Linked DNA regions of Homo sapiens. The protein of the gene in region 1 interacts with the protein of each later gene in a pairwise test. Each region holds a gene or a part of one and is shown in the gene's direction. Other genes may lie near its edges.

Region 1 (3,744 bases):
CAGTCTGGAAGTAGTAGTCCATAGATGATGAAAGTGATTAATGCAGAAAACATGTGGAATTCGTCAGTAGACCCATAAAGAAAATACTCACTTCAGCAGATTGTTAATAAATGTGCGTTTTTAAGTTAAAATGTTTAAGGTACACATGTGTTATCTTGTGTTCCATATTATTTGTATGCATCTTGTCTGATATGAGCTTTTGCATCTTGTCTGATAAGAGCTTCTGCTGCATCTCTCAGTGATTGCCACTCTTCTCTATTGCTGCTCCCTAGTCGCTATTATTTGCCCTGATTTCCTACATCAGCTTCCCAGTTGGATGTCCGCCCCAAGGTTTGCCTTACCTCTGGTCCCTTCTCCATATTGTAGCCAGTGAGAACTACTGAAAGCATACACCTGATCATTGTCAACCTTTACTTTAAAATCCAGACTCTTAATTAACGAGGACATTTAGATCTGGCCTCAGCTTACCTCTCTAGCCTCATATACTAATTTTTGTGCTGCCATTCTCTTCCCTTAAACTCTATACTTAAGCCATGTTGATTTGACTCACTTTGACAGTTAAGTTGGAGGTCGGGGTGTGTGTTGTCTGTATGTTGGGTCAGAGGGCAGGTGCCATGCTCCCTCATTTCTGGCCTTTCTATATACTGCTTCTCTGCTGGGAATTTCTTTCCTTAATCTTTCATCCCCCAAACTGACTCTGTTCTTCAGGTCTCAGCTTTCTCCTTCAGGAAGCCTTTCCTGACCCCGCAGTTGAGCGTCTCTCCTGTGTGCTTTTATAACAATATTATATATTTCCCCTTTGCTGGCATTAGTACACGATAGGTTAATTAATTCTTTATTTACCTGTATTTCCTTCAAGGCGGCCAAACTGTAAGTTCTGTGTAGATAAGGTTTATTCATTAATCTTGTTTGCCATAGTCTCCTCATTGTAAATATTTGAGTAAACGTATTATTCAGAAACAGCTTTCTAAATACTGTAGATTCTCTGAAAAAACACTTAAGTAAAATGTTTTGCTTCATTTGTAGTTGCTGTCTCTGCTGGCCTTCATCTGTGAAGAAGTTGTATCACAATGTACTTTATGTGGAGGACTTTATTTTTTTGAGTTTGTAAGCTGCAGTGCCTTTCTTCTGAGTCTCCTTATACTGATTGTGTATTGCACTCCATTTTATGAGAGAGTTGATACCACAAAAGTAAAATCATCGGTAAGCATGAGAAAATATCATCCCTGTATTAATAGCTGTTTTGTAATCTGGCATAATTTTATTGTTCAAAGCAGTAATGTTTTCAAAACTCAGCAACATGAAAAGACAGTATCCCTTGTTCCAACTCGCTCTGCTTCTAAGCACCTCATTTTTTCCTACCAAGGGGATGGTAGAGAGGGAAAGTGAGATTAGAATGAGAGTGACAGACACTGCCAATAGTTTACAGTTATTGGTGGTTTAATGTAATTCACATTAGACTTAAAAAAGCCTAGGATTTTGTCACTTCTGATTTCTCACTTTTGAGTGTCACTCATTGGTTCTACAATTATTAATTGTGTGCCTTTATTATATGCCAGGCATTTATATGCTAGACATTGGAGATAGAGTAATGAACTAATGTGAAATATTTCTGGAGCTTTAAAATAAAACAACATTTAAAGCTTAAAGCTTCAGTGATTGGGGAAAATAAAACAACATGTAATTCTTCCTATATTTTGCTTTAATGGTATTATGAAAAGTTGTCTATAAGTGAATTAAGAATGCATTTGTTCCTGTGTTAGTTTGCTAGGAGCAGAATCCTGTTAGAACCAATGCCCTACCATCTTGAGGTGCTGTCATGGCTAATGCCATCACTATAGGAATTTCTATGACAATGACAACAGGACTCATTTGTTTTATGAAATATATATTAAGAGGATACAGATAATCCTTAGAATTTTTGTTAATTATATTTGTAGTCTTTGGACATTTTTCTTTTTTACAGATTAATATGCCATAAGATTTGGACTAGGGAAAAGTTCTCAAGTGTCTGAGCTGGTTGATTTATAGTTTGAATGTGTAAAAAAAAATGTATATATTCCAAATTCTGGCTGGAAAAATTTATATTAAAAAAATTACAGATTGAAATCATTTTGTCATTTCTTAACAGTGAAACAATATCACCATAAAAATATTTTTAGAAATGTTTAGTTTTTATTTTAATGCTGCATCTGTAGTGTTTAAAGCACACTGATCATTTTGACAAGAAATGGTATTATAATATTGTCCAGTGTAGTATAATGGTGTAACGTAAAAAAAGTAAAACCTTTATTATATCAAACTTGAGCATTTAAAAAGTCATTTTAGAGTAAATACTGGTTTAAAAATACTGAGAAAAAAGAAAAATTAGTCCATCCTAAAATAGCTTTTGTATTATTTTGCTGTATTCCTTTCAAGTCTTTTTATTCCATTCATAGTTTTAAAATTTAAAATATTTGTAATCATAGAACATATATTCTACTTTTTACCTAATATAAGGATTTCATGTTTGTTTGCAGGGTTTCAAAATCACTTTTTACTGTCTGCATATTAATACACTTAGGTTTTAAATATTTTTTCATGCAAGAGAGGTTTTCTGTTTTAGAGGAATGTGTTTTGAGTGTGTGGTACTGGTGGTGCCTAAAGAAGAATAACTTTTTTTTTTTTTTTGAGAAGTCTTGCTGTGTTACCCAGGCTGGAGTGCAGTGGCGCAATAGCAGCTCACTGCATCTTCCACCTCCCGGGTTCAAACGATTCTCCTGCTTCAGCCTCCCGAATAGCTGGGATTACAGGCGTGTGCCACCACACCCAGCAAATTTTTGTACTTTTAGTAGAGATGGGGTTTCGCCATATTGGCCAGGCTGGTCTCAAACTCCTGACCTCAGGTGATCCGCCCACCTCGGCCTCCCAAAGGAATAATATTTTTTAAGAGAGAATGTCTTCTATCCCATGCTATTGCAGTCGGAGTCTATTAAGAACAACAGTAGCCAACATTTTTGGGACGTTTACATTTATTAGTGGTATAGCTCAGATTTGAACTCAGGTAGACTGGCTCTAGAACCCGTTTATTGAACACTACATTATGGTCTAAAAATGATTGTCTTGTTTCAATTAACTTGAATGTATTCCAAATATTAGTAAATAGAATTTTATATTTATATGTAATAAATTTGAAATAATCAAAAGGATTAAAAAATAAAGTACTACAGGGAAACACCTTTTAGAAGCAGAGAAAACCTCTTTTTTTTTTTTTCTTTTTTGAGACAGAGTTTCGTTCTTGTCACCCAGGCTGGAGTGCAATGGCACGATCTCGGCTCACTGCAACCTTGTGCTTCCTGGGTTTAAGTGATTCTCCTGCCTCAGCCTCCCAAGTAGCTGGGATTACAGGTGCCTGCCACCACACCCAGCTAATTTTTGTATTTTTAATAGAGATAGGGTTTCACCATGTTGGCCATGGTGTTCTTGAACTCCTGACCTCAGGTGATCCACCTGTCTTGGCCTCCCAAAGTGCTGGGATTACAGGTGTGAACCACCGTGCCCGGCAAGAAAACCTCTTACATTTTATATAAATGTTAAGTGAATGATTGACAATTTAGGAATTCTGTGTTAAATAGTTTTATTGATTTTTTTTTTTTTTTTTTTTGAGATGGAGTCTCGCTCTGTCGCCCAGGCTGGAATGCAGTGGTGTGACCTTGGCTCACTGCAACCTCTGCCTCCTGGGTTCAAGTGATTCTCTTGCCTCAG
Region 2 (3,283 bases), on another chromosome or scaffold:
TAAGTGTTTGTTACTGCTTGTTTGTATGTAACTAGATGCTGTGTATATCTCATTTATTTGCCAAAAATAAGTAAATTAAAAGTCCCTAAGCAGTGGTTCTCGGTGGTAATCTTTCTAGTTCCAATTTTTTTTTTTTTTTTTAGTATGCTGGGAAGTAGTAACAGTACAGAGGAATTGAGTATCTGAGTGATACTGAGTGTGGTAACCAGCTACGGAGGGGTGACATTGCTGGCCATCTCTAATTTTATTAAGATCTTTGATTATGTTATCCAGGTGACAAAATTCTCCAATCACGACTCACCTCCAGAAGCTTAAAACATAATTGTTTCATATACTGTTAAACACTTAAGAGATTTGTAATTTTCCAGACTTTCAGTGTCTTTACTTGAATGTCTGCCTTGCTTAGTTACTGTAAGGTTTTGATTTATTTCTCCAGTGTCATTGTTTTTCAGCTTTATTGTTTGATATAGTAAGATTTCACATGCCTAGCTTACGATGCTGTTTAAACTTACAAGCTAACTTTGCCTTTTTACTTTTTAATAGGTCCCTGATTACCCTCCAAACTATATTTTATTCCTTAATAACTTACCAGAAGAGACTAATGAGATGATGTTATCCATGCTGTTTAATCAGTAAGTTTTTTCATAAATAAGTCTGTTTCTGAGAGCTTCCTCACAGGACAAGTAGTACTTCCGTGGGTTGAATCCATTTATCACACAGCAGTAATTCCTTACAGGTTCATTGATTTGGTTTGGGATGAATCATGAATTGGAGCCAATTTGCCGATTTAGCAAATACAAAGCTAAATTTCCTCTAATGTTTGAATTCTTAACTCTGATTGATGTAATAACAAAGCTTTGATATAATATAAAATAGAATTAGTTTATTCTTGCAGTTCTTCCATGGTATTAATTACACATGAGGCTCTTCCGTCTACTCAGTATTCTTGGTTAGAGTATGGTTATTTTTCTTGGACTAGTATTAGGAAGTTGCTTAACAAATTTTAACACAAAGCAAACATTTATGTACTTGCTGTATACATGAATTGTTTTTCTTCTTTATAGGTTCCCTGGCTTCAAGGAAGTACGTCTGGTACCAGGGAGGCATGACATTGCTTTTGTTGAATTTGAAAATGATGGGCAGGCTGGAGCTGCCAGGGATGCTTTACAGGGATTTAAGATCACACCGTCCCATGCTATGAAGATCACCTATGCCAAGAAATAACATTTGGGATAGTCGTCTTTAAAAGACTTGGTGTTATTTACAGTGTTTGTTTTGATAACATTTGGCTGGGTCATTTTAATAGTTAGAGATGAGGAGGAGTAAAAGTGAAATTTTTGTGAAGGACTTAAATTATCCAGTGTTTCTTTAGCCTTGGTGAACTATGAAATACGAAGGCCTTAATTTTGTACAATAAACTTTTATTTGTATTCTGTGTATATAATGCTTTCTTGATTGACCCATCTCCCTATCATCAAATGACTTCTAGTCTAGAACACACTTAAGGTTTATAAACTTGTGTAATAGGATGCTTTTCTAGTGTTACTTTGGAGGAGCTAATTATACAACATCATTGAACCATTCAATAAAAGTTAAGTAAAATTAGATCACAGAAGCTAGTAGATGACTGTTGTATTAATGGTAACAATGATTGTTCTGGGTATTAGAAGAAAATGAGACCCAGGCAGGATCTAAATTTGATCTTTGTATCCTTTTAAGAAATGAATATATTATTTTGCTGCTAGTAGGGATTCCACAAGTTTTCTTCATTCAGTATTAAATAAAGGCTGTTCTTACTGTTTACTGAGAAAACAGAAAGGGAATGCTATCTTCACACTTTGCATTTAATGCTGTTTCCTTCATGAGGCAGGACTGTTCTAAGGTTAATATGCAATCTCTTTATTGAAAGACCTCCAGGGTAAAAATTTTTTGATCTATAGTCTCTTTTCCCCCTTAAGACAAATAGACTGATTAATAAAGAGTTGCCAGTGCTAAGCTTGCTACTTCTTTGTAATTCTTAAACACCAATGTTCAAATATTTCCAAAGCCCATTTTCTTTAGCTTTTGATTTATGTTTAAGGCTATTGATTCAGTCCTCTGCTGAGTAAACCATGGGTATCTCCAGAAGTGGACAATTTGTTTTTACAAGTATGGTACATATTAATAGTAACAACAACAAAAAAGAAAACAGTACTTATTTTTCTGGTGTTCCTGTTTTAGTATTCCTTGAACAAAACCTTTATCACTTGGAATTTTTATTGTCTACTTATGGAAAGACTTTTAGACTTACGTAGACAGTATCACATCACTCTTATGCATACATAAAGAGGAAAAAAATGTTTCCTATAACTTTGTCACAGTTAGTCTGACTCTTCTGAATAACTTTTTTAATCCCAGTAGTCAAGCTCCTGTACTTTTGTAAAATATATTAACAGTGAATTACTAGAAAATGGGCCATGTTCTTGTATATTACAGTGATGTCAATTGCTGATAAATTTTCTAACTGCTTACTCTCGGATACCGTACTTGTCTAAGAACTGAAAATAATTCACAGACTGATCCCATGCCCAGTCCTGGCCATGCTTTGAGTGGCTGTATTGGAGCAGAAAAGCCAGGGTGGCTCACCTGGGGTGAGAATGAGGGGGGTGAATAGTAAGAGGGGTCGTGTAGGTCTTCTTCAGGATTTGCTTATACTCTGAGTGAAATGGGGGACTATTTTAGAGAATTTTTTTAAAGTGGGTTAGAATTTACGTACAATAAAGTTCACCCATGTTAGTGTTCCATTTGATGAGTTTGGGCAATTGTATATAGTCATGTAATAATCAGTACAGAGCATTCCATCACCCCCAAAATTTCCCTTGTACGCCTTTGCAGTCAATCTATTCCCCTCTACCCTTGGCCGTAGTCAACTACTGATCTGCTTTCTGTCCCAACAGTTTCGCCCTGTCTGGAATGCTTTGGAAATGTATCTGCTGTTGCCTATATCAGCAGTTCCACCAATGAATGGGCATTTGCGTTCTCCAATTTGAGGCTATTAAGAAAGTGGCTATGAAAATTTACATACAAGTCTGGGCATATGTTCTATTAGATTTCAAGCAGAAGAGTGATAGTTTGATACAATTTCTAATTTACATAAAAGTTGCAGAAATGGTACACAGAACTTTCATAACACTTCAAATTAATCATTAATGTTTCTAGGCTTCTGGGCTATTTGAGGTTGTGATTACATTGACCTGATACCCCATTATTCCATGATACTTCAATGTGTGTTCTTAAGTACAAG
Region 3 (3,744 bases), on another chromosome or scaffold:
TAGACTTGATTTCCTGTAGGGAAGGCAAGGACTCTTTCAAGAGGATCTTTTCCAAAGAAATTATAGTTTATGATGAGAATACCAATGAACCAAGCCGAGTGATGCCCTCCCAGCCACTTCACATAGTCCTCGAGTCCCTGAAGAGAGAAGGCAAAGAACCTCTGGTGTTGAAAGGTAATGCCCCTGCTCCCTTCCCAAGCACGGTCCTGATTAGCCGGGTTCACTTTGGGTTTTCTCGTAGAGTGACAGCATTCTCCTTACCCTGGCTACCAAAGACCAAAATAGACTTTATTCTTCTCTTCCCTTCTATGCTCTTTATTGTTTTGGTTTAGTAAGAAAAACCCAGCAGCACTGAACTGGAAGCCAGAAGATCTGGGTTCTACCCTTCATTTGGGTTCTAATTTGCATTGTGCAAGTCATTTCACCTCTCTGGGACTGTTTTCTCATCTTTCTAAAAAGGGGCTTTATACACACCAGATGGTATCTCAAGTCATGCCTGGTCTGCTAGCTCTATTCCAATCAATCACTAGTTGGAAAGTTATTGTCTCTCAGACTTAACCAATGTTGATGGAACAGAGGAAGGAGCAACTATGGTGAACTACAAGTAAACCTACAGGTACCAGTTCTTACTGTGGGAAATTCTTTCTCTTTCTCACCTTTCTGACCAGCTTGACTTTTATGTGGTTTATAAAGTGACCTTGAAGAAGGGCAGAGCTTCTTATTCTAAGGCCCCATATAAAGTATAAGTTCACCAATTACATCCATTCCTCTGCCAAGGCTCCAAGGGAACAGAGACGTTTTTATGAAACACTCCCCAACCCATTGTTTTTTCTGGCCTCACCTGACAACGGTTGGCATCATGGCTCCTCCCAAGATGGAGTAATGGGTCACTTGCCCCAGTATACTGAATGCAGAATAACTGAGATTAGCAGAACTGAGCTCTGGCAGAAGGAATTATTCACCACTCTTCTCGGAGCACCTTCCATACCGTGTTGCCTAACCTTTCCAAGTAGCCTGCATCCTGTGCCCAGCCTAGTTGCACCTCTTTGCCCTCAGATACTGACTTTTGGGGCACTGTACATCACTCTCATTCGGCATCTTTTACCTGGTGGTGGTAGTGAGAGATAGTCGTCTTCTCTCTTCTCTCCTCTTGTGTTCTGAGCCAAGGTACGCAGTTTCTGGGTCACATCTCCAACCAGTCTCCTAAAGTGTGTTGACCAAAGGTGTTGCTGAGTTTGAACACATTGCATATTTAAATTGCAATAGGACATGTGGGTGAGCAAGTTAGTTATTTTGTCTCTATGGGACAGCTTTGCCATTCTCCTTCTTGTCTTCCCAGTGGGGCATTCTGCCTTTTGTTAAGCAGTGTTCTGGGAATTATAGTTCTGAATTCCACTGACACAATCTCCTCTTCCCACCCTCCGCTCTCCTCAAACTTGCCCTCATGGGGCTACACTACCACAAAGGCACATCTCTCCTTAGGGCTGGTGGGCTTTGCTGGGAAGGAGAACATGAAAGAATTGTATGTAGAGAGTTCCAGAAGCTTCTAGACATTTCCTGGTCGTGGTGGTTGTGGTGGGTTTTCTTGAGGTCACAAATATGTTCAGATTTCCTCCATATAGCTCTGTATTTTATTGTTTCTGTATTCTTGTATGGTTGACTTTGAGTGATTCCCAGGATATTTACCCTGCTATTGTCTTACCATAATCTTGATGTGTCTAGCCTCTTACAAATGAGAAAATCCTACCGAGGAATTTCCCATTTGTAATAGTTTGTCTTGGGGAGCAAAGAGGAGGATAGCCAATGATCATGATGATCTCCTCTTTTCTCACGCAGAGCAGGTGTTCATGATAAAAAGCAAGTCTTTTGTGTCTTCATGATCTGAAGAGAGGAAACAACACGGATCAAGATGATCCTAGACCTCCTAATCATGGGGATGATTACAAGGAGTTGCAGACCCTACTCTCTATTTTGCAGTGGGTGGAGTTGTGGATAGGGGTGACCCATCAGTCATTGAGAAATGAATCTCCTGGGTGCTACTTGTGAAAGTGAGGATCCTCTCTCCCTTTCCTGTGGATGCAGCTGAGATTCTGGACAGCCTAGACTTCTTCCTCAGTGTCAGAGTAAGATTGCCTCAATGGGGCGGGGCAGGACACACTGCTGACCTCACCACTGGGCGCCCTGGGCAGCCACTGCGAGGCCTCGTCATTTTCGAGTTGGTGAGACACCGCGGCAGTCGACTTGGAAGATGCTCTGGTGGTAGAGGTTAGATTATTTGTAGTTTTGGGGGCCTTTTCTTCAAATATCTGGGAATTTCATTGAAAATATGTAGTTCAGGAGTGAAGGGGTCTATATTCTACTTTATAATTATCATTATCATTTTGGTATCTTTTGGGAGAATGGCCTAAAATTGGGACCAAGATGGAAAAGAAGGGAAAGGAATGGGTCAATATTAGAATGCCCTTCGTTATCCTTTCAACTTGGTAAACCAGAGATTAATACCATAGCACCACTGTGGTGAAAGACGGGGTGGGCATTCCCCAAAGGCATGACCAGCAGACTTCTCTCAGATTCTTGAGTGGGTCAAGCAGACCATTCTGGTCTGGCTTCTCCTCTCAGATTTATTTGAGTAATCCCCTCCCTTGGTGATAAGATTGTGTTTCAGCAAGAGTGGTAGTGGTACCATTTCGGAAGGAGTAATTTTTGCAGGGAAGTTGGTGGGAGGGGGGCATAGTTAGAACATAAGGAGGAAACTTCTAAAGGCTTGTTAGTTTATTTTCAGAGATTTCAGTACAATCTTGGGTAATTTATGGCTGGCCCATCTGATGCTCTGGTTTATGTTTGTAAACACTGGTTGCTACCCTCCCTGTCCAAGATCCTTGTCCCCCTGTCTCCATGCCATACTCTCCATTTTTGGTGCTGTCTGTCAAGTAGAGCGGCTGCTAACTTGCCATTTTAGTAATGCTGTGTCAGGTTGGGAAGAAACCGATCAGAGGCATGGCAGCCCCTGGGATTAAGTTACTGTTCTAATTTACAGTGCCCTCCCTGTTGTGACCTATGCTAGAATCTATGTTTTAGTCTCATCTTCTAAAGAATAAATGGCATCAGACCTGTGCTTCTCTTCAACCTGGTGAAAATGATCCAAATGAATAAATATTTAGGGATTTGTGAGGTCTTTGAAAGAATTATATTGTTTTACTCAAAGCTGATTTTTAATCAACTAAAACTTGCTTTCTAGTCAAACTGAGTAAGAAAGTTGAACAATTCTAGACCATCCATAACGAGAGCTACCGTTTTTGCTATAAAGTTTTTCAGGCTCCCTTTCTTTTCAGTAAAGCTGGGTCCAGGGAAATAATTTGTCATTTACTTAGGTAGGAAGAAATAGTCTACTGCCCCTTTTTCTTAAAGACAGTATATGCCTTCAAAAATGTTATTATAAACATTTTCAAGCATATAGAAAAGCAGAAAAGTGTGTAATGAACATCCATACACCTATCAACCAGATTAAACAATTATATTTTTCCTATTTGCTTTCTCTTTTCTGTTGAAATATTTAAAAATATAGATAATGTTTTAATGTATTTAAGTATGTTTAATGTGTAAATTAATGTTTCAAATTCAATAAAGCTGGAAATATTTTATAGTATACTATGAACATTTTCACTCGTAAACACTTGAGTGTCATGTACCCATTTTTAAGTGCTTTTCAACTTCGAATCCCTCTGTGACTGACTGGCAGTCAGG
Region 4 (3,744 bases), on another chromosome or scaffold:
CCAACACTTTGGCAGGCAGAGGTGGGTGGATTGCCTGAGGTGAGGAGTTCGAAAACAGCCTGGAAATCATGTTGAAACCCCATCTCTACCAAAAATACAAAAAATTAGCCAGGTGTAGTGGTGCACGTCTATCGTCCCAGGTACTTGGGAGGCTGAGGTGGGAGGATCGTTTGAGCCTAGGAGGTGGAGGTTGCAGTGAGCCGAGATCGCACCACTGCACTCCAGCCTGGGTGACAGAGTAAGACTCCGTCTCAGAAAACAAAAAAAAAGTAGTAATTGTGATCAGTATGATTTGTGGGCACACGCCCTGAGCCCTGCCCTCCACAAACTGTCCACACATACTTCATCTGCTCATCTCTTGTGAGGCAGACATGGCAGGATTGTCTGACTCCCTTGCAGGAATGTGCACACAGTAGGTGCTCAATAGTCCCAGCCTGCAGGCATTCAGTAAGGGAGTGCCACTGTTTGCTAGGCAGCCTGCCCAGGACTTCACAGGGCCATGGCGAGCATGCAGTGCTTTTCTCACTCCAACTCATGGAAATATTTGCCCCCTCCATGTAAATATTTCTCTCCCCTCCCCCTCCTCCTTCCCCCTCCCCTTCCTTACCCCATCCCCTCCCCTCCCCTCCTCTTTTGAGACAGAGTTTCACTCTGTTGTCCAGGCTGGAGTGCAGTGGCACGATCTCGGCTCACTGCAACCTCCGCCTCTCTGGTTCAAGTTATTACCCTGCCTTAGCCTCCCAAGTAGCTGGGATTACAGATGCCCACCACAACACCCGGCTAATTTTTGTATTTTAGTAGAGACAGGGTTTCACCATGTTGGCCAGCCTGGTCCCGAACTCCTGGCCTCAAGTGATCTGCCCACCTCAGCCTCCCAAAGTGTTGGGATTACAGGCGTGAGCCACCGCATCTGGCCCCTTGTAAATATTTCTGTTGGTTGGAGTTAGAAAAGCACTCCATGCATGTTATAAAATAATTCCAGCAGAAAGAGAACGACTCCCCCACCCTGCCCCACTGCACACATGATGCCCACACATGCTCTGTCTGACCCACCCCCCCCCGCTGGTTCCAGGGAGCTGGCTGCCACCTGCTTCCAGGAGTGTCTCCCTGTGCCTTTATATCTCCGTCCTCTCTGAGCCTCAGTGTTCCTCTCTGTAAAATGGGGCTGTGATTTCTTGTTCACACCTGGTTACAGAGTTAACTGAGACTTAGAGCTTGTGGGACAATTCTACACAGAACTCCTGGTTTGCTGGTGGGAGGGAGGGGTGTGGAGTGGTCCTCACACCACGTTCCCCACCAGGAGAGAGCATTCCAGTGCTGAAGACGGCACTGCCGGAGGGGCTGGGGCCCTACTGTGCAGAGACACACCGGCGGCACACACTCTTCTGCGGGACCCTCATCTTGCAGGCCCGGGCCTATGTGGGACCGCACGTCCTGGCAGTGGTGACCCGCACAGGTATGAGCCGGGAGGCTGGGCTTGAGAGAGATCCCGGGCTCAGCACCCTTGGGAGAGGTGGAGTGAGGCAGGGTGGGACCTGGAACCCTGGACCCCACGCCCACCTCTGCTGCTGCCCTGCTGTGGGACCTCGGGCCAGTTGCCCCCCATCTGGGGTCTGAGCATTCCCATCTTAGCAGAAGTTGGGCCAGACTAAGGCCAAGCATTGCAAGATCTGGAGGAGCCGCCGGGGTTACAGTGCTGGAGCGGGCAGGGATGTAGCGGGCAGGCAGGAGCCTTCCCTGTGTCTGGATTTTCAGTGGAACCACCCAGTGTTTAGATGCTATCCACTAGTTCCTTGTTTAAAGCCCTTAAAAAGCCTACAAGAGCCGGGCCAGACCTGTTAGGACTCCACACTGCTGATGGCTAATTTCACAAACATCATGTCTTGCAACTCCAGAGGCACGGGTCGGGAGGGCTAGGGGTGGGGAAGGCCTGCCCTCACCCTGGCTTCCCTGCCTTGGGGTCCCCGCCTCCTCCCCAGGGTTCTGCACGGCAAAAGGGGGCCTGGTGAGCTCCATCTTGCACCCCCGGCCCATCAACTTCAAGTTCTATAAACACAGCATGAAGTTTGTGGCTGCCCTCTCTGTCCTGGGTGAGTGGCCCCCTGCACCCTCCTCTGCCCATAGCCCCCCCCACCTGGGTCCCAAATCCCACTCAGTCCTTCGCTGTCCCCACAGCTCTCCTCGGCACCATCTACAGCATCTTCATCCTCTACCGAAACCGGGTAAGCCTTGGGGGTGGGGTGGGGGGTGCTGCCAGCAGGGCCCAGGGGCCAACCAGCCAGGTGCTCACATTCATGGTGCCCCCTGCCAGGTGCCTCTGAATGAGATTGTAATCCGGGCTCTCGACCTGGTGACCGTGGTGGTGCCACCTGCCCTGCCTGCTGCCATGACTGTGTGCACGCTCTACGCCCAGAGCCGACTGCGGAGACAGGGCATTTTCTGCATCCACCCACTGCGCATCAACCTGGGGGGCAAGCTGCAGCTGGTGTGTTTCGACAAGGTGGGGCCGCAGGTGGGGTTGGTGCAGGGGAGCGGGACAGCCACAGGCGCCCCAGTGAGGCCTCCACACCCGCGTTATTCTCTCAGCAGCACCCACAGGATGCCAGGTCCTGTCTAGGGATGGAAACCCCCAGAGGATCCACCCCATCCCACTCCTGCCCTCACTGGGCTCACGGTCTGGCAGATGAAATGTCTAGAATCATGTATTCATGTGTTCAAGAACTGGTGGGGGGCCGGGCGCGGTGGCTCACGTCTGTAATCCCAGCACTTTGGGAGGCTGAGGCAGATACATCACTTGAGGTCAGGAGTTCAAGACCAGCCTGACCAACATGGCAAAACCCCGTCTACTAAAAATACAAAAGTTAGCCAGGCATGATGGCACATGCTTGTAATCCCAGCTACTCGGGAGGCTGAGGCAGGAGAATCGCAGAGGTTGCAGTGAGCCAAGATCATGCCATTGTACTCCAGCCTGGGTGACAGAGCAAAACTCAAAAAAAAAAAAAAATTACTGGTGGGGACCTGGGGCCCTAGTGTGCATCCCGTGCTGCTCCCAACCCTTGGGGCCCAGCAGTGACCAACACAGGCATCCTTGTGGTCACTGGAGTGTGTGTGTCCCCCACCAAAGTAAGTGATCCAGGAGTGCACAAAGGAGCTGCTGGGGCTGAGGAGTGGGCAGTGGGTTTTAGGAAGGAAGCCAGTGGGATAGCTTGATGGGTTCTAGATGGGGACACTTCCTTAGAGAGAAGGCAGTCAAGGAAGCCCCCTGAGCAGGTCCCTCAGTGACCTCAGTGAGGGGCAGGTCGAGGAGAAGCAAGGGTAAAAGGTGGGAGTGTCATAGCACAGATGTACCGTGTGCCTGGGGCACAGGGAGTGGCGTGGCACAGATGTGCTGCGTACCTGAGCACAGGGAGTGGTGGAGCAGGACAGGGCCGGGTAGGCAGTGGCCTGGTTGACAGAGGCTAGGTGACATTCAGAGGCTGTCGGGGGCCACAGAGCGCTTTTAAACTGGGGAGGGGGCCCAGCGCAGTGGCTCATGCCTGGAATCCCGGCACTTCGGGAGGCCGAGGCGGGTGGATCATGAGGTCAGGAGTTCAAGACCAGCCTGGCCAATATGGTGAAACCCCGTCTCTACTGAAAATATAAAAAATTAGCCAGGCACGGTGACATATGCCTGTTGTCCCAGTTACTCGGGAGGCTGGGGCAGGAGAATCGCTTGAACCCGGGAGGCAGAGGTTGCAGTGAGCT
Region 5 (3,744 bases), on another chromosome or scaffold:
GGAATTGGATATTCAGGTGTTCTGTTAGTCCATTTGGAATACCTGAGACTGAGTAATTTATAAGAAAAGAGTTTTAATTGGCTCATGGTATTGCAGGGTGTACAGGAAGTGTGGTGTTGGTATCTGTTTCTGGTGAGGGCCTCAAGAAGCTTAGAATCATACTGAAAGGGGGAGCAGGTATGTCACATGGCGAGAGTTGGGAGTGAGAGAGAGAGAGACGGGAGGAGGTCCCAGACTCTTTTAAACAACCATATCTCAGGTGAACTAACTGAGTGAGAACTCACTTATCATCAAGAGGATGATGCCAAATCATTCATGAGGGATTCATCTCCACGATCCAGTCACCTCCCACCAGACCTCACCTCTAACATTGGAAATCACATTTCAGCGTGAGATTTGGAGGGAACAAACATCCAAGCCATATCAGGTATTGTTGAGTTAAGGGTTTTGGTTTTTTGGTGTATCTTATTCCTTCAAAGCAGGAATGTGTCATTATCCAGAATAACCATAACTTGTTTTTTAAAAGTGTTCTCTGCAGAGAATACCTATTGAGTGTCTTCATGTTTGTTAGCTGAGGTTTTGGTGAAAAGGAAGGAAAGGATTTATGTTCTTATGAACTAAGCTCTCCAGTGGTCATGGTGTTCTTATTGTTTTATGCATTGTAATTGTTTTTAATAGTCTTTTATTTGAGGCACCTGGGTTCTTCAGTTCCCCAGAGGAGAGATAAATCATTCTTTAATTATGAAACTATCTGAGGCATACTTGTTGCATCACTTAAAGGCAGGTTTTTTTGTTTTTGTTTTTGTTTTTTTTTTAAGTTTAAAGGAAAATAAAACTCTATTGTGATCCTGAAGTCAGCAGTAGAACTTAGTTTGGTGTGTATGTCCCCCAGAGCTATCAATACATTTAGATGTTGAGGATGGAAACAGGTCAGGTAAACTTGTTCATGGTTCTAAGGTAGAAGTTAGAATATTACAATAAGTCTTTTTGCAGTGATGAAAATATTTCATATCTGTCCCAGCTACTCAGGAGGCTGAGGCAGGAGAATCACTTGAACCCAGGAGGCAGAGGTTGCAGTGAGCCGAGATTGCACCACTGCACTCCAGCCTGGGCGACAGAGGGAGACGCTGTCTCAAAAAAAAAAAAAAAAAAAAAAAAAAAAAAATATATATATATATATATATATATATATATATATATATATATATATAATATCTGTGGCTATTTCAATGTGCATGAATTAAAATTCAAAATTTGGTGGCTACCATGTTGAATGGTAAGAATAATAGGGAGTCAATGACAAACAGCCTTGATGTTTTTTAGTTTTCTATTGTGGTTTTATGTCAAAATGTTAACATTTTGTCTGCCTGTGGCTTTCTTTTTCTTACAGTGGTTGTGTTTTTAGTGTCCAGATAGTCGATTAGTCAGATAGTTGATTATTCATGTCGTGATTCAGTCTAAACAGTATAACCAAAGGTGCACAATCTGAGTGACCTCTCAGGAGCATGTCCCACTCAAGGGCTGAAGAGAAATTGGATCACATGGTCACTAGATTTGGTTGGAACATAAACTCACTTAATTTGTTTTCGTTTAAGCCTCTTGAGTCTGTAACCACATAGCCTGCTTTTAGTTCTTCTGCACTGGAATCTAAAATGACAGGCTAATTATCTCTTTGCAGCCTGTTTACTGAGGGGGAAATCCTCTGAGGCCTGTTCTAAAGAACCCTGACCTGATATTCAAATGCTTTTGAAAAAAACCTGCTTTTTGGTTCTCCTTGTAGGGAAAGTACGAAGTACACAGTAAGTTTGAATCCCTAGCATGATCAGAATGTCTGAAACCAGACCCTTTGGTAATGTAGAAAGAAAATGCACATTTAAAAAGTTGTCAAATATAAAATAAGTTATTTTAAGGAAGTTCCTTTTTTCTCTCTCACCTTTGCTTTAGTGGCCATCAATGATAAATTAAGTTATTGTTAAGCTTCCATTTTTCCTCCTCCGTTCATTGTTTCCGAGATTTCGGCCACTGAGGAACCATGGTAATGACTTTGCCACACTGGAGAATACCGTTACAGTATTAGTTATTTACTATTTTTTCTTGACATTGACATTTAATTGACATTTTGATTGACACTTAAAAGTTTCATTCTAAATAATACCTACGATATTACTAGTTTGATATATCCATTTTTCTTAATATATACTAGAATACATATTTTTAAAAATAAAAAACATTTCCCCACATACCATCTAAATTTGCAAAGTCTGGCCTGATTTCTCTGATCTCTTCTAGGAATACTTTCAGAATTGGCTTATATTTGGCTAATATAATAAAAGCTATACTATAGGAAAATTGGCTTTTTCTTCTGCATAGTGGCTTAAATTTCACTGAAGAACTTCAGGAAACCTAAAAGGCTGTGCTCATAATTCTCTCTCACTGAAACAGCGCTGCATCTCCCACACTTTATACTTCTGGAAATAAAGTTATGTTTTTCTTTCTCCTTTTCTTACTTCCTGCCTCTCTGAATCCAATTATAAGTTGTTTTACCAGTAGTTCTTATGTAATTTAGGGCATTCTTTAAAATTAAAAATAATTTAGGGCATTCCTTTAAAGTTAAAAATCAAAAGCTCAACTCCTTATGGGATGGAAAGAAAAAAAATCAAAAGCATATTTTTTTCCAGTATACATTAAGTTGTTAAAATGCTATGAGAAGTGGTGCTTACCATGTGAAAAATGCTCAACCTAAATCATAATAAGGGAATTGGAAATCCTAACTACACTTGGTAGTTTGCTAACTCACTTTGTTGGTCGGTGTGCAGAAGCAGACACTCTCATGCTTTGCTAATGAGATTGTAAATTGGTACAGATTCTGTGGAGGGCAACTTGTCAATATCCATCAGAATTACAATATATGCCCCTTTGACTCATTCTTTCCAGGAATTATAGATTTATTTATTCTCCTGTTTAATGACATAGATACAAGGTTATTATGGCATTGTTTGTAATGGTAATACATTATGGAATATTCACCCAATGAAATACTAATCAGCTGTAGAAAAGAATGAAGAAGCTTTTCATGTGCAGTTATGGAAAGGTCTTTGAGATATAAGTGGAAAGAACAAAGTACACAGTAGTATGTCCAGCATGCTCCCCCCGACCTTTTTTTTTTTCTGAGACAGAGTCTCGCACTGTTGCCCAGGCTGGAGTGCAATGGCGTGATCTTAGCTCACTGCAACCTCCGCCTCCCGGGTTCAAGCGATTCTCCTGCATCAGCCTCTCAAGTAGCTGGGATTACAGGCACGCACCACCACGCCTAAGCATGCCCATTTTTTGTGTAAAAAAGTGAAAAAGTATACACACACACACACACACACACACTTTTTTTTATATGCATAAAACATCTTTGGAAGACTACACAAAACCAAATAACATTGATTGCTTTTGGAGGTAGGGACTGACATGGGAGGAAATTTTTCACTGTATACTTATATGCTTTTTGAATTTTGAATAATGTGGATAAATTATTCAGAAATAGTTAATAAAAATAGTCTTTAAAATATATAAATATATGTGTACATAGATAGACACACACACAAACTTGGCATGAGACTTCACTATGTCTATATCCTAAATAAGAGCCTTTCTATAGGTCTGTATTCTGTTTCTGCTCATCAGGAACTGACATTTTCTAGACCTTTTTCTCTCAGTGAATTTTTTTATAAAAGGTTATAAGTCTCCTTAGAGATT

Evidence for each region.
Region 2: the proteins of CMTM6 (region 1) and SNRPB2 interact in binary tests that used the Homo sapiens proteins (3 or more experiments, as listed by UniProt).
Region 3: the proteins of CMTM6 (region 1) and DUSP10 interact in a two-hybrid assay, tested with the Homo sapiens proteins (one large-scale study listed by BioGRID and IntAct).
Region 4: the proteins of CMTM6 (region 1) and ATP13A2 interact in a two-hybrid assay, tested with the Homo sapiens proteins (one large-scale study listed by BioGRID and IntAct).
Region 5: the proteins of CMTM6 (region 1) and TMED8 interact in binary tests that used the Homo sapiens proteins (3 or more experiments, as listed by UniProt).

Annotation. Positions count from the first base shown.
Region 1 is NC_000003.12:32,489,169-32,492,912, reverse strand, and holds part of CMTM6 (CKLF-like MARVEL transmembrane domain-containing protein 6), read left to right. Parts: intron 1-1,026; coding exon 1,027-1,203; intron 1,204-3,744. UniProt on the Homo sapiens protein: Master regulator of recycling and plasma membrane expression of PD-L1/CD274, an immune inhibitory ligand critical for immune tolerance to self and antitumor immunity.
Region 2 is NC_000020.11:16,739,782-16,743,064, forward strand, and holds the end of SNRPB2 (U2 small nuclear ribonucleoprotein B''), read left to right. Parts: intron 1-543; coding exon 544-632; intron 633-1,064; coding exon 1,065-1,224; 3' UTR 1,225-2,783; downstream 2,784-3,283. UniProt on the Homo sapiens protein: Involved in pre-mRNA splicing as component of the spliceosome. Associated with sn-RNP U2, where it contributes to the binding of stem loop IV of U2 snRNA.
Region 3 is NC_000001.11:221,735,364-221,739,107, reverse strand, and holds part of DUSP10 (dual specificity protein phosphatase 10), read left to right. Parts: coding exon 1-174; intron 175-1,841; coding exon of another isoform or gene 1,842-1,885; exon of another isoform or gene 1,886-1,977; coding exon of another isoform or gene 1,978-2,024; exon of another isoform or gene 2,025-3,673; intron 3,674-3,744. UniProt on the Homo sapiens protein: Protein phosphatase involved in the inactivation of MAP kinases. Has a specificity for the MAPK11/MAPK12/MAPK13/MAPK14 subfamily. It preferably dephosphorylates p38.
Region 4 is NC_000001.11:16,994,732-16,998,475, reverse strand, and holds part of ATP13A2 (polyamine-transporting ATPase 13A2), read left to right. Parts: intron 1-1,300; coding exon 1,301-1,456; intron 1,457-1,979; coding exon 1,980-2,090; intron 2,091-2,175; coding exon 2,176-2,222; intron 2,223-2,311; coding exon 2,312-2,500; intron 2,501-3,744. UniProt on the Homo sapiens protein: ATPase which acts as a lysosomal polyamine exporter with high affinity for spermine. Also stimulates cellular uptake of polyamines and protects against polyamine toxicity.
Region 5 is NC_000014.9:77,370,374-77,374,117, reverse strand, and holds part of TMED8 (protein TMED8), read left to right. Parts: intron 1-208; exon of another isoform or gene 209-427; intron 428-3,744.